Regions from separate parts of the Homo sapiens genome. Here regions 1, 2 and 4 are each linked to region 3. Evidence: fine-mapped expression QTL. A gene starts in region 3. Each other region holds a variant in brackets. All regions are shown on one strand. Distances are from middle to middle.

Region 1 (8,000 bases), 82 kb before region 3:
ACAAATTAGGTGGCTTCAATGACAGAAATTTATTTTCTCATAATTCTGCAGGCCAGAAGCCCAAGATCAAGGTGTTGGCAGGACTGGTTTCTTCTGAGGCCTCTCGTCTTGGCTTATAGCTGGCCATCTTCCTCCAGAGTGTTCACATGGTCTTTGCTCTATGTGTCTGTGTCCGAATCTCCTCTTCTTAAAAGGACACCAGTCTTATTGGATTAGGGTCCACCCATATGCCCTCAATTTACCCTAATGACCTCTTTTTTTTTTGAGACAGAGTCTCAAGTAATTCTCCCGCCTCAGCCTCCCGAGTAGCTGGGACTACAGGCACTCGCCACCACACCTGGCTAATTTTTGTATTTTTAGTAGAGACGGGGTTTCACCATGTTGGCCAGGCTGGTCTTGAACTCCTGACTTCAGGTGATCCACCCACCTCAGCCTCCCAAAGTGCTGGGATTACTGGCGTAAGCCACCACGCCCAGCCCCGAATTACCTCTTTAAAGGTCTTATCTCTAAATACAGTCACATTCTGGGATACTGGGGGTTATGGACATAATTCCACCGTAACACTCAGTTACACATTAGAATTCCCAAGAGATGCCCAGACCATGCCCTAGACCAAAAGCATCAGAACTTCTGTGGGTGAAATACAGGGCTCTGAACTTCTTAAAACACCCCAGGGGCCTCCCATGTGTTGCCAAGGTTGCTCATCACTGGAGCAGCTGGCCTTCCACTCAGAGCACTCTTTGGTGATCCATATTTTGCTGTGCCATGCATCTTCATGAATTTCTCCATCACGATCGGCCAAACCGACCAGGAGAAGAACACTTGCTGACGAAGACGAGAGGGAGAGATGGCCAACATCGAGCATTTGTCTTCCCTCTCCTCCTGATTGATCACTTTATACAATAATAAAACTTTTAAAAGGTTGAACCTGAACTGAGGCTGTGACTGTGACACGATTAATCAAACCCTTGAAGAATCATGTTACATTATGTGCTTCAAGCATTGATCCACTTCACTAAAAGTTGGCCTGAAATACAGCCTAGACACAGGATATGGGATCTGTAAGAAACGGCCGGGATGCTGTCAATTGCTTTGTGTCTCTGTGTGATATGTGGTCCTATAGCAGACCAGACCATGAAGCAGGACAAATTCCAATGCATCAGAGAGGACATCATCCAGTCCCCAGCTGGCCCCAAATTGCTAGGAGTGGAACTACAGAGAAGAGAGAGCTGATTACGGCGTGTTCCTGAAACCTGCTATCATAATACCTTCATCCACGAGGCTCCCAGTCTCCTTCCCTCTTCTTGAATTGATTCCAGACAATCCCAGGATCTCTGACACCATAAAGTTTTCTCCAGGGAGGCACAAGTTTGGGTCCTCTCTAAATCAAAGTTTTAAAGGACCAAGTGCATCCCCTCTCCACTCTTTTTTTTGAGACAGAGTCTTGCTCTGTCACCCAGGCTAGAGTGCAGTGATACAATCAAAGCTCACTGTAGCTTCATTCTCCTGGGCTCAAGTGATCCTCTGACATCAGCCTCCGGAGTAGCTGGGACTACAGTTGTGTGCCACCTCATGGGGCTAATTTTTAAATTTTTGTAGAGATGGGGTTTCACTATGTTGCCCAGGCTGGTCTTGAACTCCTGGCCTCAAGCAATCTTCCCACCTCGGTCTCCTAAAGCACTGGGATTACAGGTGTGAGCCACTGCACCGGACCCTCATCCCTCTTGCATCACAGGGAGGCATCAAGCCAATAATAATACCTAGCATCTCTGTGCAGTGCTTTCTAGTTAACCGAGCAGTTAAACATCCCCAAACATGTGAGCCTCACAACAGCTCCAGGAGGTAGGTGAGCCAAGATTTTTGATCCCCATTTCCCAGAAAATGCAACTTGCTGGGAAAGGAATGTGAGTTGCCGAGATCATAGAATGTGTGGTAGAACTGGAATACAGTACCTAGTTTTAGGACTCGGATCCAGTGGCTTTTCGTAACTCCCTGCTGCAGGCAACATTGGAGACCACAAAAGAAATCAGATCTTGTACTGGCCCCAGGCAAAATCAGGTAAAGGCAAAGCTCCTTTGATGCTTTCGCCCTCTCCTCTGGATATCCCTCCCACCCTGTGAGGCTCACTGTGTCAGCTCACACTTTGACTAGTATCTCTGGGTCCTAAAGTCTCTCTGTCTCTCTGTGTTCCCCTCTTAAAAGTACCCTGTCTGACTTAGCTGGTCCAGTAGGAAGAATCAGACGTGCCCTCAAAGCCCAGCTTGAGCTAGCTGAATGACCTTGGACAAGTTACATTTTGCTTTTTCATTTCCTCCTCTGTGAAATGGATTCTTACTAGAACCTACTTCCATAGGGTTGAATGAAAGATTGTATGAGTCATGTACATAAAGCACTCTGGACCATGAATTGCGTTTATTAAGTACTTCACAAAGGCAGTTGTTTTTTTTAAATGATTTATATTTAGGCATTCATTATATATAACAGGCATAGTAGCTGACCTTTTGCAGGTCCTGCTATGTAATGCTGTGCGTTGACTTGTGCTCATGGTATTTTCATATGTTCTTTCATTGAATTCTCATGTCAACCCTAGAAAACAAGTCCTATTATTACTCCCACTTTACAGATAGAGAAGCTGAGACACAAAGAAGTTAACAAGAGCCAGCAAGGGACAGGACCTGGATTGGAGCCCAGGGGGTCTAACTCCAGAACCAGCGCCACCAGCTCAGGCACAAAGCGGCAGTTGCATAGAGGTTGGTGACAAATGTCTTATAGTGCCCCTAGCCATTTGCATTTTAAAATAAGACTGTCTGGGCCCAGCGTGTTGGCTCACCCCTGTGATCCCAGCACTTTGGGAGGCCGAGGCAGGTGGATCACCTGAGGTCAGGAGTTCGAGACCAGCCTGGCCAACATGGCGAAACCCTGTCTCTACTAAAAATACAAAAATTAGCCAGGCTTGGTGGCAGGTGCCTGTAATCCCAGCTACTTGGGAGGTTGAGGCAGGAGAATCCCTTGAACCCGGGCAGCGGAGGTTGCCGTGAGCTGAGATCACCTCCATTGCACTCCAGCCTCAGAGACAGAGCAAGACTCCATCTTAAAAACAAACTATTGTTTTGTTTTGTTGTTATTTTCTTCCCTATATACTCCACACTTTAAAAAGTAATGAACATCATGTTTTAAAATGATAGGGCAAACCCAGTCTCTGGCTCCACGCCAGTGTCACTCTCCTTGTCCTCAAGTTGCCTACTGCCTCAGTGCAAAGCTAGACATTGTAGACCCTCTCGGAGAAGAGTGTATGGTGCCAGGGATCCTGGTATTGTCTGTAAAGACCAAAAGGATGAAAGCATTGGAGCACACAGCAAGATGGGATATAATTAAGTGCCCAAGAACGCAGAGCCATCTCTTGAGACTGTCGGAGTACAGCTCTCTTTCCAAACATGGTATTTTCCCTGATGTTTTTTTTTTTCCCTCCACCAAAAATTTTCCACTTTAATTACGTGGGTTAGGTTAGAGGAGCTCACCTTCGGAACTTTACATGCGCAAACAGCTAATCCCTTCCATAAGACACATTTCTGGGAAAGCCCAAAAATAAATGTTTACAGTCTGTGCTGGGATAACAGAACCCAGTGGAATTAGAAATGATTTAAGTATTATAGGTCCATGCCCTAAGAAACAATTTTGGGAGAGCTTTCGCCTCTGCATTCTGGAATTCTGGCCTTCATTGTCACAAAGAGTGGAATCACTGGCAATGCTCTCGGGTTAGACGCTTTCCCTGTTTTCCTGCTTTTGCCTTAAACACAAGGAGGATGGTTAATTAAAACCATATTTAAAATATTAAGTCGACTACCTAAAGGAATGAAGTTTATTAAAATTGCTAAGCGTTAAGTACAAAACTTAAAATAGCCTGAGCACACTCTCCTTAGCCCATACCCAAAATATCGGTTGAAAGGAGCATGAGCACAGACATTGGCGAGTGGGCATACACACACACACACACACACACACATACACATGCACACACATGCACATGCGCGCACACATGCACACAGGCGTGGGCACACATA[C/T]ATGCACACACGCACACGCACACACGCACACATCTGCATGCACACACACGCACACACTACACCTCAATACGTTGATATATCAGTAAACGGAATGCATTTCTCAAGCAACCAGCATTTGACAAGCAGAGGGCAAAGACGATCTCCTAATTAAGGTACATAGAAGGCTGTTACACCTCAAAATTGTGAAATGGTCTCATGGGCTCAGAGAAAATAGAGACTGACACTAGATATCACTTCAATTCTGTGTGTGTGTGTGTGTGTGTGTGTGTGTGTGTGTCAGAGTCTCTGCCACCCAGGCTGGAGTGCAGTGGTGCAATTTTGGCTCACTGCAACCTCCACCTCCCAGGCTCAAGCGATTCTCATGCCTCAGCCTCCTGAGTAGCTGGGATTACAGGAACCCACCACCACGCCTGGCTAATTTTTGTATTTTTAGTAGAGACGGGATTTCGCCGTGTTGGCCAGGCTGGTCTTAGAAACTCCCGACCTCAAGTGATCTGCCCACTTCAGCCTCCCAAAGTGCTGGAATTACAGGTGTGCCCCTCCGCACCAGGCCCACTTCAACTCTTTAAGGCTCAGTTTCTCCACCGGTCATCTGGGGTCAGTGTTATCCCCTTTGGAAGAGTGTGGGGAAGGTTTAAGGAGAGACTTAGCACAAAGTAAGTAGGCACTTGCTCAGTGTAATGCCCCTTTCTCCCCAGGATCTCTTTGGGGTTCAATTGATAAAACATGACCATTACTCCAACAACCACATGAGGTGAGTGTTACCATCCCCGTTATATAGATGAGAAACTCTTCCAAAAGGTATTCTCTGATGGTCTCTTCTAATGCTAAGGAATTCCCTTGTTTGTATCACAAATGAGTGGGGAATTGATCTGGACTTTCAGAAACAACCAGGATTTGGGGAACAAGCGGAGAAGGATGTTTCAGACAGGATCAAACTCTACAGAGGCTTGTAAGAGAATAGGGAGTATAAAATGGTAAAAGATCAAAAGAAATGCAACCTTTTCTTCTTCTCCTTCCATATAGAGTGCTTGAGTATGGGTCAGTCAGTGTCATTTGTTCCTGGGCTTATAGTACCTGTTATTTATTAAGTACCCAAGCTGAGAGCCAGTATAGGAAAATGGTTAAGAAAAAGTGCTCTGGAGTTGGTCTGCCTGGGTTTGCATTCCTGCCTGTCATTTATAAGCTGTGTGACCATGGGGAATTCTTTCAACCTCTCTGAGCACTAGGTTTCATGATTGTAAAATTAAGACAAGAATAGTTTCTTCACATGGTTGCTTTGAGAATTAATCAAGTTAATATATGCAGAGCTTTTGCCGTGCCTGCACCTGTGAACATTCAGCACATGGTAATTTGTTGTTGTTGCTGTTTTCATGTGCTGTATATAAATAAAACAAGATTTGGGTGGATTAAGAAATAGACCAAATCACCCAAATAGTAACAACTGGTAGAGACAGGATTCTAAAACCCAGCCCCCCTGTATCAGTCAGAAAAAGTTCAGTTATGCTGGGTAACAAACAAGGCCAAAAATTAAGTGATGTGACACAATAGAAGTTTATTCCTTATTCACACAAAATTCATTGCAGTTTTGGAAAACTATGCATCCATTTGCTTAACATTCCAGATAGTTTCACTCTTATCCATATCAACACTAGTATGCAGGATCACAGTGGCAAGCAAAGAACAGGAAGGTTGTACACCAGTAATTAAATGCTTCTACCCAGCAGGGACATGCATCACTTCTATTCACATTTCATTGGCCAAACAAGTTACATGTTCACATCTAATTCAAGAAAAAGAATTACAATCCTTCCGAGGGCATAAAAGTTCAGGAAAATAAGTCATCAGCCAGTCTCTTAACTACACTATATGGCACCATTCTGCTTCTGTCTGTGATAGGACCAGGCATTGTCCAACTTTCTCTGCAGCCATTAGTTTCAACAGCCCTTACTGAGTGAGGTTCAGGAAAAAGCATCGGGGTTTTAAATGAACTAATTAATCAGCAACTGTTCCATAACATCCAGTCTGCACCCTGTTCCTTTCTTGCCTGCCAGCAGTGCTCCGTGGTCAGTGGCTGTCCTCAAGTGCCCCAGTCAGCTCGGCTGAGCCCAAAGCCTCCCATCTCTGCATTCAGGGGCTCTCTTCTTCCCCCATCCATCACCAGGGACCAGTGATCTTGCCTGTCGATGCCCGGCTCTCGCTTGATGTCTCAGTTCCGGAACAGAGATGCTCCAGCTACTACCTGGGAAGGCTCTGGCCCCAAAAATATTTAGTTAGCAGCCATTCAGTTAAGTGGAATTGACTTTTTATCGGCTTTCCTCTGTACGGCTGCCACCAGCGAAGGCTGTTTCCTTCTTCCCTCTTCTCTGCCTGTCAGTTTCCTCCACATTCCTATCGGCAGCCTTTAGCTCTGATCGATACTAACCGCTGTGTAACAGCTCACGCACGACTGCTCTGGTTTGCATCGATCAGACCCTTCTTCCAACAGGTAGTCAGCTATTTGAGGCAATGACTTGAGATAAACACCTACTTTTACTTCAGGCTAATTCATTTCAGGTGGATTTCAAGGAGGCCCTGCACCCCGTCTCTTAGACAAGCTGAAATTGGAGAGTCAAGATCCACGCACTGCATGCTTGAGATCCTAGGAGACCTTTCTTCCTCTCCCGTTTTCTTTTTCTTTCCCTTGTATTTTGTAAGTGCCACTTATAAACAAGATACCAGGACTCAGGACGTTGAAAATGCCACTTCAGAAAATGTGTCGGCCATCCATCCCTCTGTCCTTTTAATGAGATGCATCCGGGACTGCAGGAAACCAAGACTGCTGCGGAGGCAGGATTGTCGCTGGGCAACCAAGCATCCTTCCAGCTGCCCCAGAAAGAATCTCACAATGTCCTGCAATCCCTGGTCTTCTCACCACCTCAGGGGGCGGTCCTTGAATCCACCCCCATCCTTGTTCCAGGCTCACAAGTGAAATTTACCAGGAGCTGATATTGCAAAATAGATTGCTATTTCGCAACTGACTGCAGTGTGTGGGAGTGGTACAACTTATTAACATGTGCACTGCAACCAAAGAACACACAAGACTGGCTGACGTACACTTTTTTTCCAACGTGTACCCTAAGTGTGGCTGAATGATACATCTAATACTATCATTCACCTATCACGTGGCTCCCAAACCTCCCATCTGTTTCTGTTTCTTCAGTCCCCGCTTGACACATCCAGTACTTCAGTCCCCAAGTCCTGTTGTGCTTCCCCTAGCAGCGCAATGCCCTTGTCTCTTCCCTCCATCTAGGCTGCTATCATCCTCATTCAAGCCCTCATCACCTAGTGCTTGGACCTCTGCAGTATCCTCTCGCTGATTGCCTGGCTTCCAGTTGCTCCCTGCTTTGTTAGTTTGGCCTTGCACACGGATAAATTTCCTGGTGCCCCGCTGTGATTGCCTTTCTCTTCTCTGAAGTCCTCAGTGGCTTCCCAGAGCCTCCCAGAATGGAGGACAAATTCCTCCACCCATCATTCTGGTCCTTGGCTCTCTCCCCATTCTCTGTCTTTCCCCATTCTCTAGCACAAACCCCATACTAGTCCCTGTGGATGACTCACTGCTTCCTCTCTGTGCATTTTTCAGCTATGTGCCTAAGAAACAAATGCTGTGTCCCACACCCTCTTTGAAATTGGTTCAAATCCTGGCTCCATTTCTTATTACTGTATGACCTTGACTGAGTTATCTAACTTCTCTTTGCCTCAATTTCTCATCTGTGAAGTGGGATAATAATGGTACGGTATTAGGGTTCTCTAGAGGGACAGAACTAATGGAATAGATATGTGTGTGTGTGTATATATATGCATATATATATACATATATACACACATATATATATATGGGAGTTTATTAAGTATTAACTCACACGATCACAGCTTCCCACAATAGGCCATCTACAGGCT
Region 2 (8,000 bases), 57 kb after region 3:
CTTCATTTAACTTGATGGGAATGCTTTCAAACAGGGGTTCCGGAATATTGCTACAGCTTTTCAACCCTGTCCACAGGCAGCTCTTGAAGAGATGTGCATTTGACTAGATGATTTACCTTGAAACCTGCCAAGAGAATAATTTTAGGAAACACCCCCGCCCCTTGTGCCTCTTTAATTGTTCCGTCAGGAGGAACCTTGGTGCTGAGCACTGGTTCTGTTGAGAAGTGCTAATTAGAAATAATAGCTACAACAAACAAGTGTTAGGAGGCAGCCTAAGTGATGTCAACATCAAGAAGCTGTCATTGGCTCCCTGCAGATGTGCGGGCCAGCTGTGAGGCAGGGGAGCCTGCTGCTCCCTGCCATCCACCTGGGGAAAGGTAGAGGAGGTAGGAGTCGGATAGGCTGCCATAGCCAGGCCCCCTTGGCTCGATGACTTTTGTTCCTTGGTTTGAGGTTCTGTTAATGCACTCTAAGTCCCATTGGTACTCAATATGGACTCAATTTCAGCTGGTCCAGAAAGTCTTGGGGGAATCCCAGAAATGGCACCTGGGGGCTTGGGGAGGGGAAGTCATTCCATCCCAGGAGGCAGACAAGAATCCTTCTGAAGGTGGAAGTAATACAGCGACTTAAATATAACCTGAGCCAGACTTGCATGTCTAAGTGAATGCTGAGTCTTAAATATTCATTTACAATGTTAAAGTCTATAATTTCTTCATAAAGAATTCTAAAATAATAAAGATGACCTGGTAGGCAAAATTCACTTGTATTTTCTAAAAGCTTTTGATAAGGTCCCTTATAAAAGATTAAGAGAGAACAAAACCACAGTGTGGCACAAAGTCCTTGTTGTGGATTAAAAAATGATTAAGTGATAGGGAACAGAAGAATTCTGGTGGAGACCCACTGCTTGTAGCGGGGAGAGGTTAATAGAGGGGTGTCTGAGAAATCTGTCGTCGGGGCTGGAGTTATTAAGTATATTAATTGTTTGGAGAAGGAAATGGAGGGTGAATTAGTGCACTCGGCTGCTGCTACCCTGGTTTTTATAACTGGATTCAACCCAGAGAGTCTCTACAGCCCCGAATGCATTGGGGGATCGGGCAGCACAGTGGCAGAGGAAATGAAGTTTGAAGACGTCTAGGGTGTAATTCAGGTTGGCAGAAAGTCTGGTCCACGTGGGAAAGCTACCATGCCCCCTGAACTTGCCGCCTCTCCTGAGGACAGAGGTTCAGGAGTTATCGTGAGCAAACAGCAGTTCAGTGAAGTGACTTTTTAAGTACAAAACAGATAAAGGAAATTGGAGTGGGGAGTGGTGGGCTTGAAAAATAAAGGGTTTTCTTAGGAAGGATGAAACAGGCGCTGCTGTGCTGTTGGGCATCGCTTGTTGTCCTGTTAGAGTGAGGAGGGATGATTCTTTTCGTCTGACAATGTTCTTTTTTGTGCAGTTTTAGGTATTTTTAGAGTCATGAGGAGGGCAGCTGCTCTATTTGGAAGTGCTCACATCTTTATTTCTCAATGGGGATTTTGCACGTTATTCTGAAACATGTTAATACATGTAGGCAGCTAACGGTAGGGGGGCCTGTGGACAGGTCTGGTGGAATCACCAAATCATAGCAGATGATACTACGGATCTCTTAGCATAGACCACATGGCCTGGCATCTAGAATCTTGTGATGCGAACAGTGGGCCATACAGGGTGCTTGGGTGAGGAGTGATTTTGGTTGAGTGGGTGATAGGAGCAGGCAGCCAGGCTGGCCAGCCAGGCCGGGGGACCTGTCTTCATGTGTCCTGCCTTTTTGCAGTTCTTGTTTTTTTTGTTTGTTTGTTTGAGATGGAGACTAGCTCTGTCACCCAGGCTGGGGTGCAGTGGTGCGATCTCGGCTCACCACAGCCTCCACCTCCCAGGTTCAAGCGATTCTCCTGCCTCAGCCTGGGAGTAGCTGGGATTACAGGCGCCTAGCGCCATGCCCGGCTAATTTTTCTATTTTTAGTAGAGATGGGGTCTCACCATGTTGGCCAGGCTGGTCTCAAACTCCTGACCTCAGGTGATCCACCCGTCTCAGCCTCCCAGAGTGCTAGGATTATAGGCAGGGGCCATCGCGCCTGGCCTTTCTGCAGTTTTTGATGCCCCTCGAAGGCTCTTTGGTGCCTTCCTTCCGCGGCTGGAATGAGTTTCGTGTGCACGGCCATCCACCTTGAGAGGTTGTACCTTTCTGAATGGGCTGTTCCAAGCAAGCCATACATTTCTTTCTTGGTCAGTCTCCTTTATTTGCTAATTTCCTTTTGCTGTCTGTCTCTTTACATGGGTGCCACTTTAATTAAGACCTAGAGAAGTGCTGGCCTCCATGAGAAATGTGGCTGAGTCCCCTCTTTTGGCTGTGAGTAAATGCCTTTGTGTGGGTTGGGATCCCTAGGAGGCACCCCCCTAGGGAATTTTTGCAATCTTGGCCGAGCATAGTTAGAAGCTGCAATTACTACTTGGTTGCTAATTACCCAGCCTCACATTAGATCCGTTTACAGGGAGAGCTTGGAGCCTGTCAGCAAAGGTCAGCCGGAGGTCCTCTCACTAAACAGCCCTCTTGTGATAGCTGTTGGAGGGGAAAGGCATTAATGGGGGAAGGCAGGGAAGCTGGCTCTGGGCTGTAGGATCCTCGCTGTGGGGGATGGGAGAGGCAGAAGTGCTGTTGATGGCTGCAGAGGTCAGAGAGGCTGATAACCCATCTCATAACCTTTCTCAGGAGGCCTGGAGGAAGGCGGAGAAACGCTTTCATTTTGGAGGCTCTGCTCTAGCAAGGAGGGAGATGGATACTTAGAAGAAACTAGGACCTGTGGGTTGGGGACTTTTAATGGTTGACTATGTGAGAAAGATCAGTTCGGCGACAGCCTCTGAGAGTGGAAGAGACCCCTCTGCCCCCAACTCAGGGCATCATTTCTGTTGTTTCTTTGTACTGCCTATACTGTATTATTTGCTTTACATTTTTCTTTTCACGGGATCCTCCGTTATAACCACAAATACCCACCTTAGCATCATCCCGAGCAATTGTGTCTGAGGAATCACAGGCTCGTGCTGGTTGGATTGGCTCAGATAAACATTGACTGGCTAATGACCAGAATGTACAAAGTTCACCCACTCCCACCTGGAACCATCTAGCCCCTGGCCAGTGTTGCGTGGGTGAAACACCCTGAAAAAAGATGATGGAAAAGACACTGGCCTGGAAGTCTGAGTACTTGTGTGTGACCATGGACAAGTCTCTCTGCTTCTCTGAGCCTCAAAAGTGAGAATACGGCCTTTGTTGGATTGCTATGCAAATGACATGAGAACATGTTCTTTGTCTGTATAAATGTTAATAAATATTAATATAAGCATTAATAGCTAACCCCTATTAAGCATCTACTGTGCTAAATACTTCACTGTCTCATTAATCCTTACAACCCTATGGGGTAAAGATGATCCTACACCCATCATATGAGTGATGAACTTGAGGCCCAAAGTCTGTAGCAAATTTGCTGCTGTTAAATGGCCTCTGCGCTGGGATGCCAGCTCAGAGCATATACTCCTAGCCACGACAGCAGTCCCTCTTTATCCTTGGGGAGACATTCCAAGACACTTAGTGGAATGTCTGAGAGGGAGGATAGTATCAAACCCTAGGTAGACTATGTTTTTTTCTCTACCTACATGCCTATGATAAAATTTAATTTATAAATTAGGCACAGTAAGAGATTAACAGTGATAACTAATAATAAAATAGAACAATTAAAACAATATCCTGTAATGACAGTTATGGGAATATGGTCTCTCCTCTCTCTCAGAATATCTTACTGTACTGTAATGTGGGTAACTGAGGTCATGGAAGATGAAGCCTCGGATAAGGGACTGCTATACTATATTATCCTAATGCTATACAGTACATACTATGCTGTGTATAGGACTTCTTTGTCATTAACCCATTTCTCTCTCTTTTTTTTTTTTTAATTTTATTTTTTGAGACAGGGTCTCACTCTGTCACCCAGGCTGGAGTGCAGTGACGCGATCTTGGTTCACTGCAACCTCCGCCTCCCGAGTTTAAGCGATTCTTGTACCTCAGCCTCTCGAGTAGCTGGGATTACAGGCATGTGCCGCCACACCCGGCTAATTTTTGTATTTTAGTAGTGGCAGGGTTTCGCCATGTTGCTCAGGCTGGTCTCGAAGTCCTGGCCTCGAGTGATCCACCTGCCTCGGACTCTCAGAGTACTGGGATTACAGGCATGAGCCACTGCGCCCAGCCATTATTGACCCATTTCAAGGTGTTAGTTTAGTGCTTCTCTGATATCTGCCTGTTGGGTACATTATTAGACAAAAATCGTTTAAAGTGAGGAGAACTGGAAAGAAGAGGGTGCTCAGCTCCTCCAGGGTGGATCCCTTTTAAGATCGCTCAGCAGCTACAGCAAGGTCTTCAGCACTCAGTTCCTGTCTGTTTGTCCCATCCGTGGCTGGGACAGGCCTGGACTTCCCCATAGCTCTCTCCCGCCCGCTTCAAATCAGGGCAAGATCAGTATGTGGTGATGGGGGCCTTGGAGGCAGGGGCACGATGTGTGAGACTGATAAC[G/A]TTCTTGCAGCCTGAGACATGGGCTTTAGAGCAGTTTCGAAACTCTGTGTTCTCTCTCTTCACAAGTACAATGCGTTTCCCTGGCATTTACAGGCCAGGACCTGGGAGAACGCCGTGTCGTCTTAAACCTCAGAAATTGCCAAGTGACAGTGCCAAGGGACGGGTTTACTGGTTTCCCCTCCATCGGACTGAGTGCAGCTGCCCTTCCCCACCCTCCTGCAGTTAGGGAGGCGTGTCCCTCTTTTGACTGGCTGAGTCAGAAATCAGCCAGGACTTAGCGCTTTTTGATTTGAACAGAAACGGTGGGGGGAAAAAAACCCAAACCTTGTGGTATTTTATAATTCGGGAAAGTTGGTCTAGAGAGGGCCAGCGAATTGGCTGTGGGACCCTGTTAGGGAAAGGTCTGGGCCTCCTGACTCCTGCTTTCTCTTTTCCTGAGCCAGAGGAGCCCCAGGCCTGTGCATGAAACATACTTGACAAAACTAAATTTTTACTGAATTTCCACCCCTTGGGTGCTGACTAACACCACTTCCCCACATATAACTCTGCGTCCGCATAATTAACATATAATTTGATACCTGGAAATTCATGCAGGGTGGAGCTGGAATGGATTACTCAGCTTTTGGCAATTCTTCCTGGGCTGTAGAACTCTGTGTGCTGCATCTTGCTTCTCCTGTTACTGCTAACTCATTTGGCCCATATTCTTCCCACTTATTTCTTCCTTCTGCCCTGGAAAGATGAGTGAAATAAGTATGTGGTATGTTTTTGTCATTGAAGCAACTGAAGGATTGTTGACTTATCCATGTGCACTGTCCACTTACCTAGTATGCGTGTTCTTAGCCTGCTTCTCGCATTGGCTGGTGGAGTTTGATAGTGCCATGGTTTCTTTTTTTTTTTTTTGAGACAGAGTGTCTGTCGCCCAGGCTGGAGTGCAGTGACACAATCTTGGCCCACTGCAACTTCCACCTCCTGGGTTCAAGCAATTCTCCTGCCTCAGCCTCCTGAGTATCTTGGATTACTGTCATGCAGCACCACGCCTGGCTAATATTTGTATTTTTAGTAGAGACAGGGTTTCACCTTGGCCTGGCTGGTCTCAAACTCCTGACCTCAGGTGATCCACCCGCTTCGGCCTCCCAAGGTGCTGGTATTATAGTCATGAACAGCCGCACCTGGCTCTGTTTTAATTTTTTTTTTTTTTTAATTTGAGACAGCGTCTTGCTGTCTTGCCCAGGCCAAGAGTGCAGTGATGTGATCTTGGCTCACCGCAGCCTCAAACTTCTGGGCTAAGTGATCCTCTTGCCTTGGCCTCTCTTAGCTGAGACCACAGGTGTGCACCACCACTTCCTACTAATATTTGTATTTTTTGTAGAGATGGGGTCTCCCTATGTTGTCCAGGCTGGTCTCAAACTCAGGGGCTCCTGTGATCCTCCCACTTTGGCCTCCCAAAGTGCTGGAATTGTAAGTGTGATCTCTGTGCCTAGCCAGTACCGTAGTTTATTTCATTGCCTGCTTCCTCATCAAGATGATGCCATCAGTATTAAAAAATGCAGTCAGTAATTATCAGTGAAGAATAAAGATGAAAAATTATGATGATTTTGCAATTTAAATTTATAGCATATGCTGATGGTTATAAGTTTTGTTGGAGAAATTATTTATTGTGTTGACACATGTATTAATGTGGGGGAATCATGGCTCTTAATGTACATGATACCTGCCTTTATAGATTGAAAGACTGGGTGAACCCTGACCTGTTGCAGGGACCCAGTTAGTGCAATTGAATTCCAATCAGGATCACTTGGAAATGAATCCAGAAATCCGCGTTATTTGAAAAGAAGTGATTTAGAGCAGTGCAGAGGGAAGATTGTATATGGTGTGAGCTCAGAGGAAGGCTGGAGTGAATCCCTTAATCAGAAATGTTTGGCGGGTTCCAGCCTGCATATCGACCCCTCGATGGCCACAGCTTCCTGATCCAGTGGCTGGAGAAGGATCTTGGGTCCGTGTACCAGCTAAGCATGCACCCTTCAGTCAGCTGCAGGAAAGGTGGGAGCGGGAAGAGTAGCTCCGGGACTGGCTGGCTGTTCCCTGCCCTAGACTGTGCTTATGAGCCTTTCAGGTTTTGAGAACTTGACTTTGGAAAGCTTCTAAATTTGTTCCTAGTGGGTTGATGTATTTTGTGGAGGTCAAATTAGAGCTAATGGCCTTAATGGTTTACAGTGCTCCTAAATGGTTCTTAGCACTTATGCAGGCTCGACTGGCCCTGTTGGGCGGGTTTCCAAGTGTGGACCATATTGTTCTTAGGGTATGTTTTTTGCTGAAGTTATTGTTGGGAGGACAGATATGTGCAAGTGAGGTTAAAAGGTAACAGCAGAATTAGCCACATATAATATTAAACTTTCTTTTGGTATCAAATCCAGGGAGGTGTTTGTTAACATGGGCCCCGTGAGCATATGTGAATGAATAGGGCGTCCAGCTTGGAGTTCAGTAGGTGGCGTTTGTCTGTCCTTTGCCACTTTGCCTAGGAGCAGGTGATTCATGAAAGGCAGTCCTAGGGAAGCCTCAGATTCCCTCCGGCCATTCCTGGTTGCCAAATAGTTCCTCTAAGAGCAGGTAGCCAGGTTAAAGGAATCCCTGGTGCATCCCTTCCAGCCATGCTGTGGTATCCATGAGTTCATGGCAAGGTCTTTGGCAAACGAATGATACTCTACATAAAACTGGCTCCAGTGTTCTGATTTCTGTGTGTTTGGGAGTAGGTGGGGCAGAACCAGATGTCTATAAAGGAGCTGCATGTCTGTACTGGTCCACACCATTGAAGCATACATGTGTACACAGGCACAGTGTGGGGGCAATGACCTCCCAGAGCTGCTGGTTGCAGCTGAATGGGAAGAAAATAGGGCAGGTAGAGGTCCCTCTACCTAAACTGAGGTGGCAGTGGCAACGGAGACCAGGAGCACTGGTGAATGATTTCTCCATGCTTTGATCGGGGAGGGTGGGAGGTGGAAGCAGCCTCCACATCATCTTACTTTGGCCTGTCAGCTCTCAAAGTGGTGTCCCTTCAATTGCAAATGTTGTTTTGAAGGCCTAGTGCTGTAGAAGTCTATTACAGGTAAAATATTCTTAGCTGCTATGAGAGTTGAGTGAGGGATGGGTGCTTGCCTTCTAGCTGCTGATGGAATGACTACTGAATTCTCCTTAAAACTTGAGTTCTTTGTTTTGTGTTGAGACAGGATCTCACTTTGTTGCCCAGGCTGGCGTGTAGTGGCTGGATCACAGCTCCCACAACTCACTGCAGCCTCAGCCTCCTGGACTCTGGTGATTCTCCCACCTCAGTCTCCCGAGTAACTGGGGCTACAGGTGCTCGCCACCACACCTTGCTAATTTTTGTGTTTTTCGTAGAGGTGGGGTTTTGTTTTCGTCGTGTTA
Region 3 (8,000 bases):
GCATGGCAAATTCCCTTTGCCCTTTCAGAAATAATATTTTTGTTTAAAAAAGAAGGAGCGAGAAAGAGAGAGAGAGCTCTTTACCTAACATGTAAAGCTGTTTTAAGGCAACTTCTGTATTTTGGCTTTCTTAAAACTTGGGGCTTTGTAACTTAAAATTAATTTAGAAAAACTCTCCGAAATCACAGCTTTTAAAAAATGGTTACTCATTTGTATCTTTGTTGTGGGATATCATTGACAGATTTAGCACCTGAGCTGGGGAGGGTGGGTAAGGAAATTAGATAATGTTCCACCTACGATTTGGGGGTAAAAATTAATCTATGGAATTAGCACTGTAGGGATGGATGGAGGCCTTGAGGCTTCAGCAGAAAAATGTGAATCAAAACATCTGTGTGCAGGCCTTGGCACACCAGCTTCCAATGGTTATGAAGGCAAATGTGAGCTGTTCTGAGGAACTTCTGCATTCTGTTCCATACCCAGGAGGGCTCGGCCACCCAGCGGGTACCAGGCCCCTAAATATAACTGCCTCAAAATCATGGGGTGAACTCAGGCCAATTCAGCTCCAAATGGTTCCTTGTTTATTTCAGGAACGTTTGTTTTTGTTTCTTGCCCTCTTCTGGATTTTTCTTTGTTAAAGCCTCCGGGTTATTTAAGCACTAGTTTTAAAAATCAATGTATACGTATAATTTAATAAAAATAGAAGAACCCGGAAGGGTGCACAAATCTGTCTAAACCCGCTGTACTGTGAAAAGAGAGCCCAGGTTACGCTGGAAGTCAGAATGCTGACATCCACTGTATCTTAGAGATCATATTTACCTTTGCAAAAGTGGAAGGATACAGCATTAGTAAGTGTGTATGTGTAGAGAAAGAGAGAGACAAGCAGGTTTGGCTCGGTAGAATCATTGTAATTTACCAGCCAGCTCAGCGTTAGGGGGCAGGCCTCTGGCTTGGAGAGTGGGTAAGGGGAGGAGTAGGGAAGGGGTTAGCGCTCCCTGATTTATTTTTAAATATTTATCCTTTCGGCTGTTGCCAATTACGCTTTCCAGATGAGACGAGACTGGGTATGGAGAACTGCGAGGGAAGAATTGCCTTTTCTGAGAGTGGGTTTATTTGTCAGCAGTGTTCAGGATGGAGCGATGAGAATGTCAGGCTGTCACTGCTGGGTAGGCCATGGGTTTAACATCAGGCAGCTGCCCTCCGAAGAGCCAGGGCTTCCAGAGCTGGAGGATAGAATTTGCAAGGAGTATTTCAGAGGAACTCCTGATTTCATATGTAAGTGCAGAAGTTGCCAATTCCCTCTGAAGAGGTATTGTTTTTATGAATAAGGAAAATGAGTTTTAGTAGAGGTGACACCCAGCTTGTGTGTAGTCCCTCATTTCCATAATGTACAGAGGCCATAGATCACCTGCCTGTGGATTACCTGTTAAATTTTTGCCTGGAACAAAGGCAGGCTTGACTAGGCCTCATCATGTGTGTAGCTGGTGCCAGATAAAGAAAAGGAACTCAGGGTCACTCTCAGTTCTACTTGTCAGGCCTCTCAAGTGCAGGAGGCAGGTTGCAGGGTCTGCCTCTTGGGACAGTGGCAGTATTAGGGCAGATCCCGTCCGGGCCTTCTGCCCAGGCAGTGCTGCATCCTCCCAGGTTACTTTAATAGCTTGTTCTTTGGGCTTTCTAGCTTTTATTTTATTGAAGGTATTTGTCTGTGGGCCTACCAGGATCATGATGTCACCAGATTACGAGGTTGTCCCCTGTTAATAAAAATGAAGATAAAGCAGCAAAATTAGATTTTCTGAGAGTATCAACATTTTCTTGTTGTCTTTAATTTATCCAGCAGGCCTTACCTATCCCAGGTAAGGAATCTTCGTTTTTCCGGAGAGATTGCCAGAGGCATCTCTGCGTTGTGGGCCACGTTGCTTGCGGTCCTGCTAGCATACGTCATCTTCATGTCTTATTCATAGTCACTTTTTCAATTAAATTATTAATTGTTTTCTTTAAGGTGTTCTCAACTTATATGGCCAATATAAATAACAGTGTGTTTTGAAAACACCACCTGTTCTTGGGCCTGAAGTCAGGTGGTCTGGAAGCAGCTCTGCAGTGACCATAGTCTGGTTTGCAAACTCATCCTCCACCTTCCCTGTTGGCTCTTAACTCCCCCCACCCGGCCCCCGTGCTCTCACGTGTGACTGAATTGGGCTTGTGCCCTCCTTTGTCCCTAATCGGACATGATTCCCTGGAGGCAGTCTTTTCTCCCAGGGCCTTAGCTGAAATAAATAAATAAATAAATAAATTTCCCCAGAATCTATTCTGGACTAAAATGTAGAAAGGGGCTGTCTGTACCCAACAGGTTAGATACTTACATTAATCTGAACCCAACTTACATTGTGCAAAAAGCCTTCTATACGGGGATGTGATGGTTTTCACCAGCTAAGCATCCCTTTTTCTCCCGAGTCAGTGTGTGCCTCATGCTAATACAATTCCATACATACTGCTCTTCGCCTCATGAGCTGATTATATTTCTAACACTTGCATGGTTCATTATTGTGCCCGAGGAAAAGACTCTCCAGGCTGTAAGGCCAGCCTGGGTGGGTGGTTTTCAGAAAGGGTAAAAGCAGGTGCCTTTCTGTGCTGTGAGAATCGGGAGTAAATTCAGACTGAGGGTGGGATTCTGACAGGGAGGACAGAGGACTTCCGGTGAGATTTCTTTGGGGCTGGCTTTCAGATGAGAATGGAAAAAGGTGGACTTGGGGAGATAGAAGGCGCCCAGCAATCGCTTTGACCAACTGGAAAAGGTGAACTTGGGGAGATAGAAAGGCGCCCAGCAATCACTTTGACCAACTGGGGTGGCCGCTTTAAATCTTACCCTGGCGGTAGGAACTCCCTGGGAAAGGGCACGATCTTTGCTATCTCTGCGGTGATGTGGCTTTATAAGGTGAGGCTAAGGAGCCTGGAGGCTTACATGGTAGACTGCATCTCCTTTTCTTCCCACTTCTTTTCTTCCTATCTTTCTAGTGATCTCTCCTTTTCTCTTTCTCTGGCCTCAAAAACTATCCTTAAACTCTCAACGGAGAGCAGGGGGATGTTTTTATAAGTTTCTGCAACTGAAAAACAGAAGTGCTCTGTAAAGCAGTTAATAGGATGGGTGTGTGTTTCCAATAAATTCCTGTCCACATTGGCTCCTGTCCCCATGCTTGAGTGGCCTGGCTGTGACGTGGACGGGGCCCAGGGAGCGATGGCTCCGGTTCGGAGGCCTCAGGCTCCTTTTAGTGGCCGAGGGCGCGTCCCTTTCTTCTCGCCCGATTCTAGGCCGGCCCCTGACCTTTGATGAGCGAGGGGTCAGCGCCTCCGGGAGGGCCTGGGCTTTGTTCCCGCCGGGGCCGGTTCCCGGGGCGGCGCAGGCCGAGCGGCGAGGGTTCCTGGCCCCAGGCGGGTGCGCGGGACCCCCGGCCTGCCCCAAGGCCCGCGCCCCAAGCGGAGCGAGCGCAGCTGAGCGCCCGGGTCCCGCGCGTCCCTGTGCGTCCCCGGGTCCCTGCGGGCGGGCGGGCGCGGTCGCCGCCGAGCAACCCGGCCTGCGCCCGGCACGACTGTAGATGTCAGGCTTTGCCCGGGGAGCCGAGCGGCAGCGGGGCTGTGAGTTTCAAATTAACCTTCCGCTTTGTTGCTGTGTAATGTGGATCCCCGAAGGCCCCCCGCCCCGCCCGCCCCCCTTCCCCGGGCGGTGCGCGCTGCAAACTGCGAGTTGGGCTTCATTTACATAAAGCGATTCCGGGCGGGCGGCGGCAGAGGAGGAGGCGGCGGCGGCGGGCAGGCCGGGGACCCGGACGCCAGCGCCGCGCCCCGTGGGTGAATCCCCGCCGCGTCCCGGGGACCTCCCTCCGGGGACGGGCCGACCGCCAGCCCTGCCGCCACCATGAGCTCCCCTCCCCTGTCTCCGGGCCCCCTGCTCCTGACCAGAGCCACCTCCGAGTCCTGGGGCCAGCGGGAGGTGGGGAGCATGCCGCCTGGGGTGGGTGAGCTCGGGGCTCGGGTGCCACTGGAATTTCCCGTTGTTGCGCATGGCGGCGCGGCCCCCGGACCTGCAAGTGCCGCCTCCCTCCGGAGGTGCGCGGAGGCTTGGTGTGCCAGGTGAGTGCAGCCTCCCTCCGGGTCCGCGCAGCCGGCCTGGAGCCGCGGGCAGGTGCTGCGAGTCTTGGCTGAACTTCCCATTCTCTTGGGGCGTGTGGGGGAAGGGCAGGCTGGATGCACTTGAACTCCCAGACTCCAGTTGCCACCTACCTAGGGTGAGAGCGCCTAAATTCTGCTGGGCACACAGTAAAGCTCTTCCTTCCTCCTTCCTTCCCTTCCCTCTGTCCTCCCCTCCCTCCTCCTTTCCTGAGTCTGCTTTTGGATTAGTTCCTGCCTTCTGAATACTTGTGGTACTGGTGTCATTTAGAAGTTTGGGTGCCTCCGCCTAAAAATGCACCCTTTTCAGCCCTGGAGAAGTCGCTGGTCAGTTCGAAACAATGTGAAGAATGCGCTTGTGGAGTAATTAAAGGGAGAATCAGAGTTTTGGAGCTGGAGGGCACCTTTGGAGATCATCTTGTCCACCCTCTAATTTTAGTTTTTTCGCACTCTTGGAAAAGTCAGAGCATTTATTTCCTTGGGCAGGGGCGGGGTGGGGAGCTGATGCAAAGGAGAGAGTCAAGATTTTTATCCTGTTAGGAGGAGGAATGCCTATGTTTAGGTCAGTAGCAGAAAAACAATAACAACAAAAAGAAGCATTGTAGGCTTGGAGGGAAACGAACCTTCTGGAAAATGTTCTTTTCTGCCTTGGACACACCTGTGTTATGATAGGAAAAGGCCTGGAGGGCAAAGACTGCAGCTCACGCATGGTGTGTGCTAAGAGGGAATTGCGTGGCACAGTGGTACCTCCTGTGTTAAACTGGCTTAAGTGAAAGCCGTGAGCAGGTGAATCCAGGAGGGTCATCCCTCCCCCCACCCTCTGTGTCATTTAACAGTCCTTGAAGACTCCCTAAAGCCACTGACAGAAAACCCCAGAGAGAACAGATGGCTCTGCCTGGGCACAGAAGGAAGGCCTCTCCTTCATACTGGGTCCTGCTTGTCAGAATGCACCAGGGCAAAGCCTTGAAGGTAGATTGTGAGAAAGTTACACATCATCTTATTTCTCTCTATGCTTTGAGATCCTTGGAGACAAGTCACTAAATAAATAGTGTATAATTTAAAGCTCACCCTAGCTGGGGAAACTCTGTTTCCTTGCCGTCAAGCAGCAGGTGCGAGTTTGTAGAGTTGGCCCCTCGAGTTCCCTCATTCCTGAATTCAGGAGGTGTCAAATCTTCACGTTCAGTTAATGGCTGTGGTTTCTGGATAGGTTTCAAGGGAAACCCTGAAAATCACGAGTTCCAGGAGGCTGGGCTGGAGGAGGACACGAGAGTGCTGTGGTGGGGACTGCATTGGGTAGGAAAACATACACCTTCCAAGGTAACCTGATCAAGAAAGGCCGTAGCAAGAAACATGAGTCTGCTCCTTGTTATCAGAACAGCCACTGGCAGCCTGAGATTCTGAATCCCTCTTGCTACTCAAACATGAAAAACAATGAAGGCAAAAGTGAGGTGTGAGGGAAGTCAGGAGACCACGGTTCCAAATAATTGAAGGGTTTCAAGAATGGGGTCTTCACAGAGAGGTACATACCTGGATGTTTGCACGCCTGTATTTGTGTTCATTCTGTTTTGCAGAGACCCTGCAGGCACCCTTTCAGAGAGTGTGTAGCTATGATGGCCAAAAGAAACTTTTTCTCTCTCCCTTTGCTAAATTACAGGACTAAGGAGTTCTCCTCATGGTGTTTCCAGCATAGTTTTCAGAAAGCATGTAAAGTGCCTCTCAGAGTGGGCTGGGGTCACAGTTGGCTCTTTTATTTAATTACACAAGTGTTATTTAACAACATGGAGCAGATGCAGAAGCGAGCACTTTTAGACTTTAAAAACAGCCCTTTCAGAATCACAAGGAATTAAGTGACTTGGAGACCTTCTGTCTTTATGACATGGGTCACTTCCCTCTCTCAACAACCCCCCCCCACTTTTTTTTTTTTTTTTGAAATGGCTGTACTTTCTATGAAATAGAGCTACTGTTTTCCATTTCTCCTGAAAACAGTGTTGATGAACAGGGAACTATTGAGAAACACTTGCTAACTATTCAATAATAATAATAATAATAATAATAATAATAATAATAATAATAATGTAAATCCATGCTGCTTCCCCAACCACCTGAAACTTAATTTTGGTTCCTTTTCTTCCATTTTTTGTTTGCACAAATGAATGTTAAGGGAGGGTTGGAAAGGCCCATCTAAAACGGTGCCCTCCACAGGCCCCTGCCTGGCTCTTCCCACCAGGACAGTGAAGTGCCTGCCTTCTTGCTGCTTTGAGGTTGAATTTAACTGCTGTGTCAACTCAGTGCCAATTGGACAGCCCAGTGGCAAGGAGCTAAAATAAGCGAGATTTAGTTTTCATCATTATGACTTTAAATGATGCTTGCTAGACACTCCCAGGACCGGCCTGGCTCATCTTTGGTGACCCAAAAGTGGTTAGTTCATTAGAATAAATCTGTGATTACAGACTGCTGGAAAAGTATTTCTAGGGCTAGTGGTGATGTGGCTTAGTTCTAGCATCCAGGAAACATGTCCTTATTGTCACTGTGTGCAGTTGTTCCTTTTTGGTGTATCTTTCAGGGGTAGGAGCTTTTTTTCTTCCACCTACAAAGTATCAGTAAGAATCTGGAAATGCTTCAGGGCTCAGAGCAGACCCTTACTTAAGAAATTATTTTTATTGCAGAGTTGTAACAGTGTCATCTTAAAAAGTAAATATTTAAGTGACTAAGCAACATTTTGTAAAAGTGTAGGGAACTGGCTTGAATTATTTAAAGGGGAAGAAAGTGAGCTGTCTTTATAAAACTCACCTTTTGGCCAGGCATGGTGGCTCATGCCTGTAATCCCAGCACTTTGGGAGGCTGAGGCAGGCAGATCACTTGAGGTTGGGAGTTCGAGACCAGCCTGATCAACATGGAGAAACCCCGTCTCTACTAAAAATACAAAATTAGCCGAGTGTGATGGTGCATTCCTGTAACTCCAGCTACTCAGGAGGCCGAGGCAGGAGAATCGCTTGAATCTGGGAGGGGGAGGTTGCAGTGAGCTGAGATTGGGCCATTGCATTCTAGCCTGGGCAACAAGAGCGAAACTCCGAAACTCCATCTCAAAGCAAACAAACAAACAAACAAACAAACACTCACCTTTTAAGAGTAACTCACTTGTTTCTCAGCTCTAAGGATTTAGCCTTGACTTACAAGTAGGCAGCAATGATTCTGGTCTGAACAAACTTATATAAACTCCATCTCACCCTCACTCGTACTGCACACTGAAGATGCCTGTCAGTAACCTGAAGAAGTACAGTATGTGCTGTGGTTTATGCTTTCATTTGTTATTAAAATGATTGCTTGCTGTTAGCCTGGCCTATTTCTGTGATGTTTGGGCCTGTTGGCTTGCTCTGGTTCCTAAGGCTGGTGCAATTAACCAGGATGGGGGCGTTACTGTAAAAACACAACAGGAAGGCAGATTCCATTACAGTGAACCTCATAGGGGTATCCAAATGCTCTGGTATGAGAATTTGGTGGTAATGGTTATTATTAGAAATCACAGCACAGCTCAGAACCACCGTCCTCTGCCTGAGTTAAAAAACTATGGTCAGGGGAAATGGGAACCCAGTTTTAATAGAATCTAGGCAAGGGAATTCCTTGGCAGGAGCTAGTTTAAATCATAAAGGGCGCCTGTTCTGTCCAAAGCACAGTGTCCTGTGTCCTCAGGCCACTCAGATTGAGAAAGGAGCACACAGAAGCTACGGTTGTGTCAAACCGCCCCGAGGGAGAGACCCAGGCAGAAATCTTGGCTCATTGGCAAGCCACTTTGAAAATCCAGATTAAAGAGAAGCACTACAAAATCAACAACTGTCAGAGGG
Region 4 (8,000 bases), 69 kb after region 3:
CTCCACCATTCTGGCCTATGTAAAAATTTACGACTTAATGTCTTGCCATCACTGTTCTGGTCTGTGTGGAGCAACTCAATATTTGGTGGTGTGTATAACTCTACTCCACTGAGGTGTGATCAATGAAAATACCTCCTTTGGGTCTTTGGCATCCTATCTTTTTCTCGTATTTAGATGATACATGTTTTGGAAGGATTTGGAAGCTTAGGCATGCAGCAGGTAGGTTTCTGTCTTTATTCTTCTTGTTTCTCTGTGAGTTGGTGATTCTCTTTAAGGAAATGATGCCTTCATGGAGCCAAGAGCACCACAGTAGAAACTGTAGCTTGTGTCCTGGTCCTTGCTCTGCAGCTAACCAGTTGCAGGACCTTGAGAAAGAATGACTCGTAGGAGTCACTCAGATGTTTGAATGAATTATTTTTTTAAACCTGTAAAATCGAAAATATGATTCCCATTCTATTTAAAAAGATTGTTAGAGGTCAAATGAGAGTGTTTGAAAATGTGTAGAAAGGCTGGGCGCTGTGGCTCACTCCTGTAATCACAGCGCTTTGGGAGGCCAAGGCGGGCAGATCACCTGAGGTCAGGAGTTCAAGACCAGCCTGGCCAACATGGTGAAACCCTGTCTCTACTAAAAATACAGAAATTAGCCGGGCATGGTGGTAGGTGCGTGTAATCCCAGCTACTCAGGAGGCTGAAGCAGGAGAATCGCTTGAACCCGGGAGGTGGAGGTTGCAGTGAGCCGAGATGGCGCCACTGCATTCCAGCCTGGATGACAGAGCGAGACTCCATCTCAGGAAAAAAAAAAAAAAAAAAAAGGAAAATGTGTAAAACGCTGTGTGCATGGAAGAAGCATTGTTATGTGCCCTTTGGAAGGCTGGTGCTGGGTGTGACTGTGCCCTTGGTCACATATTGGGGTCCCCGTGAAGAAGTCCATTGCACAGAGTGCTTCTGGGGAGCTTGCAGCATGGTGATGCGTATTGAAGTTGGAGGGTGTGCTGGATGTTGGGGGTGGGTATGGGCCCACATATGGCCAGAAGCCCACTTACCACTGGGCCGTTTACCTACAGAGCCACACTAGAGAACCAGCCCAATTGGGAGCAGTTCAGTTGAGGCTTTGCAAAGCAATTAAGGTGCTTATAAAACATTCATGCTGAGATAAAAGACAGTGTGCGCAAAAACAATGGCTGGTAAACATCTGATTTTTTAAACTCACTGAAAGTGTTAAAAATATTTTCTTAACCCGTTGAGTCAAGAAGTGGAGGCTTTTAATTCAACGGATGTATATTCTTCTTAATCAGACTTTGGCTCAAAGCTTGAAATCAAGCTGTTATATAACCTTAGGCTGTTAACTTTTGTAAACAGGCGCATTTTTGCTCAGTAATGATCGTGATAGCTACCACTTATAAAGGCTGTCAGGTGCTATGCCCAGGCGTGATGCATATTGTCTTTTTCTGTGTTCTTTTAAACATTAGCAGCCTGGTGGTGCTTGGTACCTTCTAAGAGAAGGAGTAAGAGTGGGGGTCAGTAGATGGTGGTGTTTGAAAGGAGCTTTAGAGATAGCTGGGGCCCGGCCTGGGAGGAAAGCCCTTCGGAAGAAAGGAGAAACCCACATTTCTTTGAAAAAAGGCTTGGCTTGCCATGAACGTATTGACTCAAGACTGAATCTCTTGGTTCTGGTCAATGCTGTTCTTTTAGAAGATGTTCCTGATAGCGAATGGTAACTTTTAAGGAAAAAAAAAATTACTGTATAAAAGTAGAAAGAATGATATAATGAACCCTTCCATAGTTCTATCACCTTGACTTAACAATGAACTTTTGGCTAGATTTGTTCCGTCTTTTTTGTCCGTTGCTGAAATATTTTGAAGCCAACGATATCATGCTGCTTCATCATTTTCTTATGTAAACATAATATTATTCCCTAACAAAACTGACTTTTTTTGAGACAAGGTCTCACTCTGTGGCCCAAGCTAGAGTACAGTGGTGCGATCACAGCTCATTGCAGCCTTGACCTCCCTGGTCTCAAGCAATCAAGTAGCTGGGACTACAGGCGCACACCACTGCACCCAGCTGTTTTTGTTTTTTTTTTTTTAACTTTTGGTAGTGATGGGGTTTCACCTTGTTGCCCGGGCTGGTCTCAGACTCCTGGGCTCAAGCAATCTGCCCGTCTCAGCCTCCCAAAGTGCTGATACTTGAGGTTTGAGCCACTGCCCCTGGCCAAAACTGACATTATTAACATGATCTAATCCCAAGTTGCAATTCAGACTTATCTGATTGTCCCCAAAATGGCTTTTTACATTTGGCTGGTTAGAACTGGCATCCATACGAAACTACATAGCGCATCTAGCTGTTGTTTGGTTCTTAGGTCCCCTTTAATCTAGAACAGTTCTCCTCCTTCCCCAACGTCCATGTGAGCCCCTACCCATCCAGCCAGCCTGTGGATTTAAAAGGATGATGCGGAGTAGCTTCATGTGGGAGGAAGGCACTGTTAGTGTGGTGTGAAGATACCCAGGTCTTCGTCCTAGCTCTGCCACTGACCGGCTCTCTGACGTCAGCAAACCACCAACACCCTGTGGGGTCAGTATTCTTGTCTATCAGTGGAAACAGTGAGACTAGCTGGCCTCACACTCAAGCCTTCTCATTATTACCTCCACAAAGAGATCCGGGAAATAGGGCTGCACGCCCTACTTGCACCTAGTCTTATCCCATTCTCAGCAGTTGAGAAATTACTGGAGCTAAATAATCCTGACCAATTGATTTTTTTTTCTCTTGGACATTGTAAATAGTGTACCTTTAAAAGCATACCTAGCATGCCTTTATCCTCTTGACTTTTAGAAAGCTTAGAGCCAAATTTGACTCAGTGTGTAGGTTATTCTTACATGCATTTTAAGCTTGATTTTTTTGGTTCAAAATTTCCTCCAGTTTTGTTTTTTCTTTCTTCTTTTGCCCGGGCCTCAATTTATGCTATGATGTTGTATTGTATATTGTAAACAGGATCAATAAATAACTGTGTGCTAGGTATTCTTATGGGGCCATCACCTAGTCTGTAAGCGCATTGATTTCGGGGTCCATGTCTTATATATTCTTTGCTTTGTTGAGGCACAGATTAGGTACTCAATAAAAGCTTCCTGAGAGATTTTGGTTGGACACATTGCCATCACTGGTCCATGTAAAATTTCCATTTTAACAGTGAAGAGTTGTGGGGAGCAGTGTTAATTTCGGACTGTGCCCTGGTTCTTCTGTGATCCATCTTTCCTATGGCGAAATGGCCTGTGGAGGTCTGGAGAGCCACCTGGCTGGTGGTGTTTTTCATAGAACTTGTCTTTTTGAGGAGCTCCTTGCTGTTTTTTCCATAGGCCTTAGGTAAGCAAAGCAATATTTGGCAGGCAAACAGTTGGAGGGATCTTAACTGCTAAAACAGTAACCATTCTGCGTATTCCGAAGAGAAGCCCACCTGTGGTTCCAGCCTTGGACACAGGAGCGCTGTTGTTGGGTGCTGAGGATGATGGAGGTGGATTAGTCACAATCTATCATCTGCTACATCTGTAAAAGAGTAAAGTAGCCCATCACATGTGCTCCACGCTCTCTTAGGACTCAGGTGTGAGCTCTCCTGTTGACACTCAGCTTTCCTTTGCTGCTTGTGAGAGTTTGGCCTGACCCTCAGGAAGGTGTTGGTACCAACTGGTTCTCTCCTTTACCTTCCTAGACCTCTGCCTCTTCATCTATCCAGGAGAGAGAGGGAGAAGAACATCTGTCCTAGAGGGTTAGGTGAGGACCAGAGTCTGGGCATGGTAAGCACCTAGCACAGTGCCTGGCACATAGTAGGCACTCAATAAATGGTAAGTGCCTTCAGGATCATCTCTATGACTGGCTGGAGGACATCTTTACAACTGTTGTATAGTGGCCTCCCCTTTTCTTGTTTGTTGACATTTGGAAGGGGATCCCAAGGGGCTGTGGAGATTGGTTGTAAGGATGTTTATTCTGCATCCCTGGAAGACTTTGCTGTAATCCATAGAGAAGCACCGAGGTGCCTTGTTGGTTCAGAGTCCAACGATGTCTCCCACCCCCGGCCGATGCTCTCCTAGGCCAGCAGCGTGGCGCTGGTCTTTTATTTTTCTGGGAGGAGAGCACTTCCAATCCTCTGGGCAGTGTGGACTTAGCCCAGAGGAAGGCGAGACCTCGGTCAGGGAGTGGGGGAAGGGGTCCTGGGTGTGGCTGGGAAGTTGAGGCTTATGGCCTGCAAGTTTTCTTCTAATGGAATTTCCCATCACTTACTGCCCTGCTGATTTCTGATCAATGAAAATGAAATTGCATCACCTCCTCAGAGGCTCCACGTATGCCTGCTGCTTCCAGCTGTGTCAGTTCCGGTAAAATAATCTCATCAGGCGTGTGAGAGGGTAATAGGAAATAAAAATAAAAACCCACAATTA[A/G]CAAGAGGCCTTGTAGCTGAGTAACACTTTCCATCCCAGAGCAGAAAGGGCTGGGTCGTGAATGCTCGGGAAAGAGTTCCTTAGAAAGAAAAAAAATCCCAGGCTGGGTGCGGTGGCTCACGCCTGTAATCCCAGCACTCTGGGAGGATGAGGCGGGCAGGTCACCTGAGGTCAGGAGTTTGAGACCATCCTGGCCAACATGGTGAAACCCCGTTTCTACTAAAAATACAAAAATTAGCTGGGCATGGTGGTGTGCGCCTGTGGTCCCAGCTACTCAGGAGGCTGAGGCAGGAGAGTTGCTTGAACCTGGGAGGCGGAGGTTGCAGTGAGCCGAGATCGTGCCACTGCACTCCAGCCTGGGCAACAAGAGTGAGACTCTGTCTCAAAAAAAAAAGAAAAAAGAAAAAAAATCCCTGGTCCTTTTCTTCTTCCCCTTTTTCTTCTCACTTCCCCTGAATTCCATCTCTCCCCTCCACCCTGGGGTGCATGGTTTGAAATTGTGCACAGATTTTCATTGCCCCGCTTTTGGGGTCAGTAGAATTTCTGTGTGATATGCTCATGCTGGTGTGGCTTTTGCTTTTTTTTTCCCTGAGTCCCCTGCAGGTAGACACCAAGTGAATCGTAGAGATCCCAGCCTCTCCTCAAGAGCTGTGTGGAGAGTGATTTTTTTCCCCCCACTGACCCACGACAGGGAACTAATAGTTGGGGAACAACTCAAAGTCGAGTGCAGGTTGTACATAGACTTCTAAGAGGTGGTTCATGTTAGTTCCTAGACTTTATGCTTCAATTCTAACTCCTTTAAGAATAAGACTCCCCTCTCTGCAGCATTCCCCATAATGCAGCATGTGTCGTGAGCATGCGACCCTATAAATGGACACTGGTCACGTGAAAGCTGGGCTGAGCCACCTCCTTGTGCAGTGCAGTGAGTGTGTCAACCCGCCAACCCTCAGCACCTCTTCATAAGACCTGGGGAGGCCAGACGCTGCGTCTGGAACCTGCTGCACTGTGTGTGGAGTTTATAAAGTCGCTGGTCCCAGCTTAAAGAGGAACCAAGGCCAAAGAAACCAGGATGGGAATGCAAAGGGCAGGTGAGGAAGTGGGAAACCAGTTGGGTTACCTAAGAGGAGCCAGTAGAAATGAAATCATATCCTTTCTTGTCAACTCGACATCAAAGGAGAAGAAATGCTTATGTGTAGGCCGGTTCAGTGGTTCTGCAATTTCTCATCACCATTTGTGGGATGGCATGCCCTTCATCCCAGAGAAAAACATGTTGGGCTGTCAGGAAATGGTCAACCTAAAATATCCCTAAAATGCCTTTGATGGGTGACTCCCATGTGGACTGAAGGCGAGACCCCCGTGGGGGTTAGAACTCCCGGGGCACTGGCGGAGTTGAACCGAGGTCTCAGGGCCTCCGGGTTCCCCAGCACTGCAGGGTCTCAGGGCGGCGGTGCCACTTGTCCAGCCATGAGATGCCATGGTCAGTGTTTTTAAACACAGTGGACCTCAGTCAGTTCACTGTGACCACACCTTGTTAATAGAAGGACAGATTCTGGCATCAGAGCAGGTAGACTCTGGAATGAGGCGAGCAGTAACCCAGATAATTGTGTTGACATAGTGAATCCCAGTGGCCACGTGGAGTGCTGAGTCCATTTCTACCGGGGTCCTGATCACTGCCTTCCAGTTCCTTCCTTTGCCTGCCTGGACGCTACTGAGAGCAAGCTCGTAGGAGTCTGTATCGACAGGAGGGACGCGCTGTGTATGTTGTAGGCACTCAATAAATATTGTGGCACGAATGAATAAAAATCATTAGAACAACCAGTGAGTAGTTGGATAAGTATTATGCAGAGGAGCTTAAAACTATGACCACTGGGGCTGGAACCCCAGTAGCCTCTGTGTTATTGAAGTCAAAGAAATTGGCCCCATTCACCATCCAGATTTGATTCCCCGAATCTTACCATGGCTTAACATGGGAATCTTTTGGAACTGCAGGAACAGTTGCCAAAATTTGTTCTGGCGCTGTCCAAGATTAGAACTGCTGGCTGGAAGTTTTGGTGGAATGAGCAGAGCTCTAGGCATGAAAGGAGAGAGGGTGCAGCTTCAGAAAGAAAGCTGAAGTTCTTTATGTTAACATGCATTTTTCATATGTTTGTGTGTTTGCACAAATACGCTTCCCCTCTTTCATCCTAGACACTTAGCACAGGGTCTTGATCTACATTGATCACATTTTATGACTTGAGCTGGCAATTTCTCCCCTGGGACCAGACCTAACCAGGGTGTTCAGGAAGCCATTAAGGAAAAATATGTAACCACACTCATTCCCAAACTCAATTGTTCTGTCTTAGCAGTGCTCAGATAAGAGATTTTCAAGCATAATTAATCCAAGTACTATTTAACGTGGCCTTGGTGGTTCTTCTTAGCAGCTGTTGACCCAAACGCAGCATTGGGAGCAGCAAGAGGAGAAAGACCATCTGTGCCATTTTTGCTGAGTTGGTGAGGGTGTAATTATTGCCCACAGTCACTTGGTTCTCTGGGTGGCTTCTGGAAGGTTAAGGAAGTGTGAGCTCTTGGATCCTTACACTTCAAGAAGAAATTTTCCTTTGTTATTTTAGCTAACTATCAGGGCCGCTCTTTGAAGTGGCCAGTGGTAAGTATGTCTCAATATGGATTTCTTGATTAAAAGTAACAGTGCAAATAATGGGCTTTGTAATTACCATGTGGGATGGAGAAGGGGCCATGAAGAAGGGGACATGTGATCACGTTTCATGATCCCCTCTCTTCCCCCTGTACACCCCTCTCTCCTGATTGTATTGTATTTTATTTTGTTTGAGACAGAGTCTCACTCTGTCTTCCAGACTGGAGTGCAGTGGCACGATCAGCTCACTGCAACTTCTGCCTCCCGGGTTCAAGTGATTCTGCTGCCTCAGCCTCCTGAGTTAGCTGGGATCACAGGCGCCTGCCACCATGCCCGGCTAAGTTTTGTATTTTTAGTATAGAGGGTGTTTCACTATGTTGGCCAGGCTTGTCTTGAACTCCTGACCTCCAGTGATCCGCCCACCTCGGCCTCCCAAAGTGCTGGGATTACAGGTATGAGCCACCACACCTGGCCCTGATAGGGTTTTAAGCTTTGGAATTTGGAAGTCTTTCAAACAAACTCAGAGTGCCAGCAGAATCCATGCCCCCTTCAGTCTGTCTCAAAGCCCTTGCGTCCTGGTGGTAGTTCTTGCTGCCGGTTCACTTTACCCTAAGAAAGAGAATCGAGATAGGAGCAACTCTCTGGGCCTCTAGGATTTGAGGACTACTCATGATGAAATAAACCTCTCAAGCCTTCAGTCTAGTGCAGTGAGTTATCTAGGAGGGAATTCAGTGATGGGGTCTCTGTGCATAGCATGCCTCCACCAGATAGGAAGTTGGGTGGAAGCTTAGTACGCACATCCCAAAGGGGTCTCTCGAGGGTGCCCAGTCAAGGCATGGGGAAGACCCCGTGTACGATTTTGCTTTTGCAGTAGGCATCCCCTTTTCATGCCTTTACCAATGTCTCTACCTTACAGTGGCCATTACTGCTTTGTTGAGTGTCCC

Which allele goes with the higher level. Positions count from the first base shown, and alleles are read on the strand shown. Sizes are in standard deviations (SD) of each study's normalised expression. Not every link is listed here.
As copies of G replace A in region 4, the expression in monocytes after LPS of the gene that starts at base 3,746 in region 3 goes up (moderate effect, 0.61 SD a copy in Quach 2016).

The links. PIP is the estimated chance that this variant, and not a neighbour inherited with it, causes the effect.
Region 1: its variant is fine-mapped to the expression of ZFHX3 in whole blood (TOPMed, PIP above 0.99).
Region 2: its variant is fine-mapped to the expression of ZFHX3 in fibroblasts (GTEx, PIP above 0.99). The same link has a PIP of 0.9 or more in sun-exposed skin and unexposed skin.
Region 4: its variant is fine-mapped to the expression of ZFHX3 in monocytes after LPS (Quach 2016, PIP 0.95). The same link has a PIP of 0.9 or more in monocytes after Pam3CSK4 and monocytes after R848.

The regions. Positions count from the first base shown.
Region 1 is chr16:73,125,718-73,133,717 of GRCh38, reverse strand. It overlaps a transcript of ZFHX3 not described here. Among named protein-coding and RNA genes, the nearest start is that of HCCAT5, 37 kb to the right of the region's middle. The variant C/T (reference allele first, on the strand shown) is at 4,062.
Region 2 is chr16:72,986,958-72,994,957 of GRCh38, reverse strand. The region is part of intron 1 of ZFHX3 (zinc finger homeobox 3); the gene reads left to right. Among named protein-coding and RNA genes, the nearest start is that of ZFHX3, 57 kb to the left of the region's middle. The variant G/A (reference allele first, on the strand shown) is at 4,581.
Region 3 is chr16:73,043,874-73,051,873 of GRCh38, reverse strand. ZFHX3 (zinc finger homeobox 3) reads left to right here and starts at 3,746. Exons shown (of 10, transcript NM_006885.4): 1 at 3,746-4,122. It overlaps LOC124903719 (a long non-coding RNA gene), which reads right to left and starts at 4,296. Exons shown (of 2, transcript XR_007065116.1): 1 at 4,074-4,296; 2 at 1,086-1,748. RefSeq lists enhancers at 2,845-3,380, 3,917-4,452, 6,816-7,316 and a silencer at 3,306-4,155.
Region 4 is chr16:72,974,690-72,982,689 of GRCh38, reverse strand. The region is part of intron 1 of ZFHX3 (zinc finger homeobox 3); the gene reads left to right. Among named protein-coding and RNA genes, the nearest start is that of ZFHX3, 69 kb to the left of the region's middle. The variant A/G (reference allele first, on the strand shown) is at 4,425.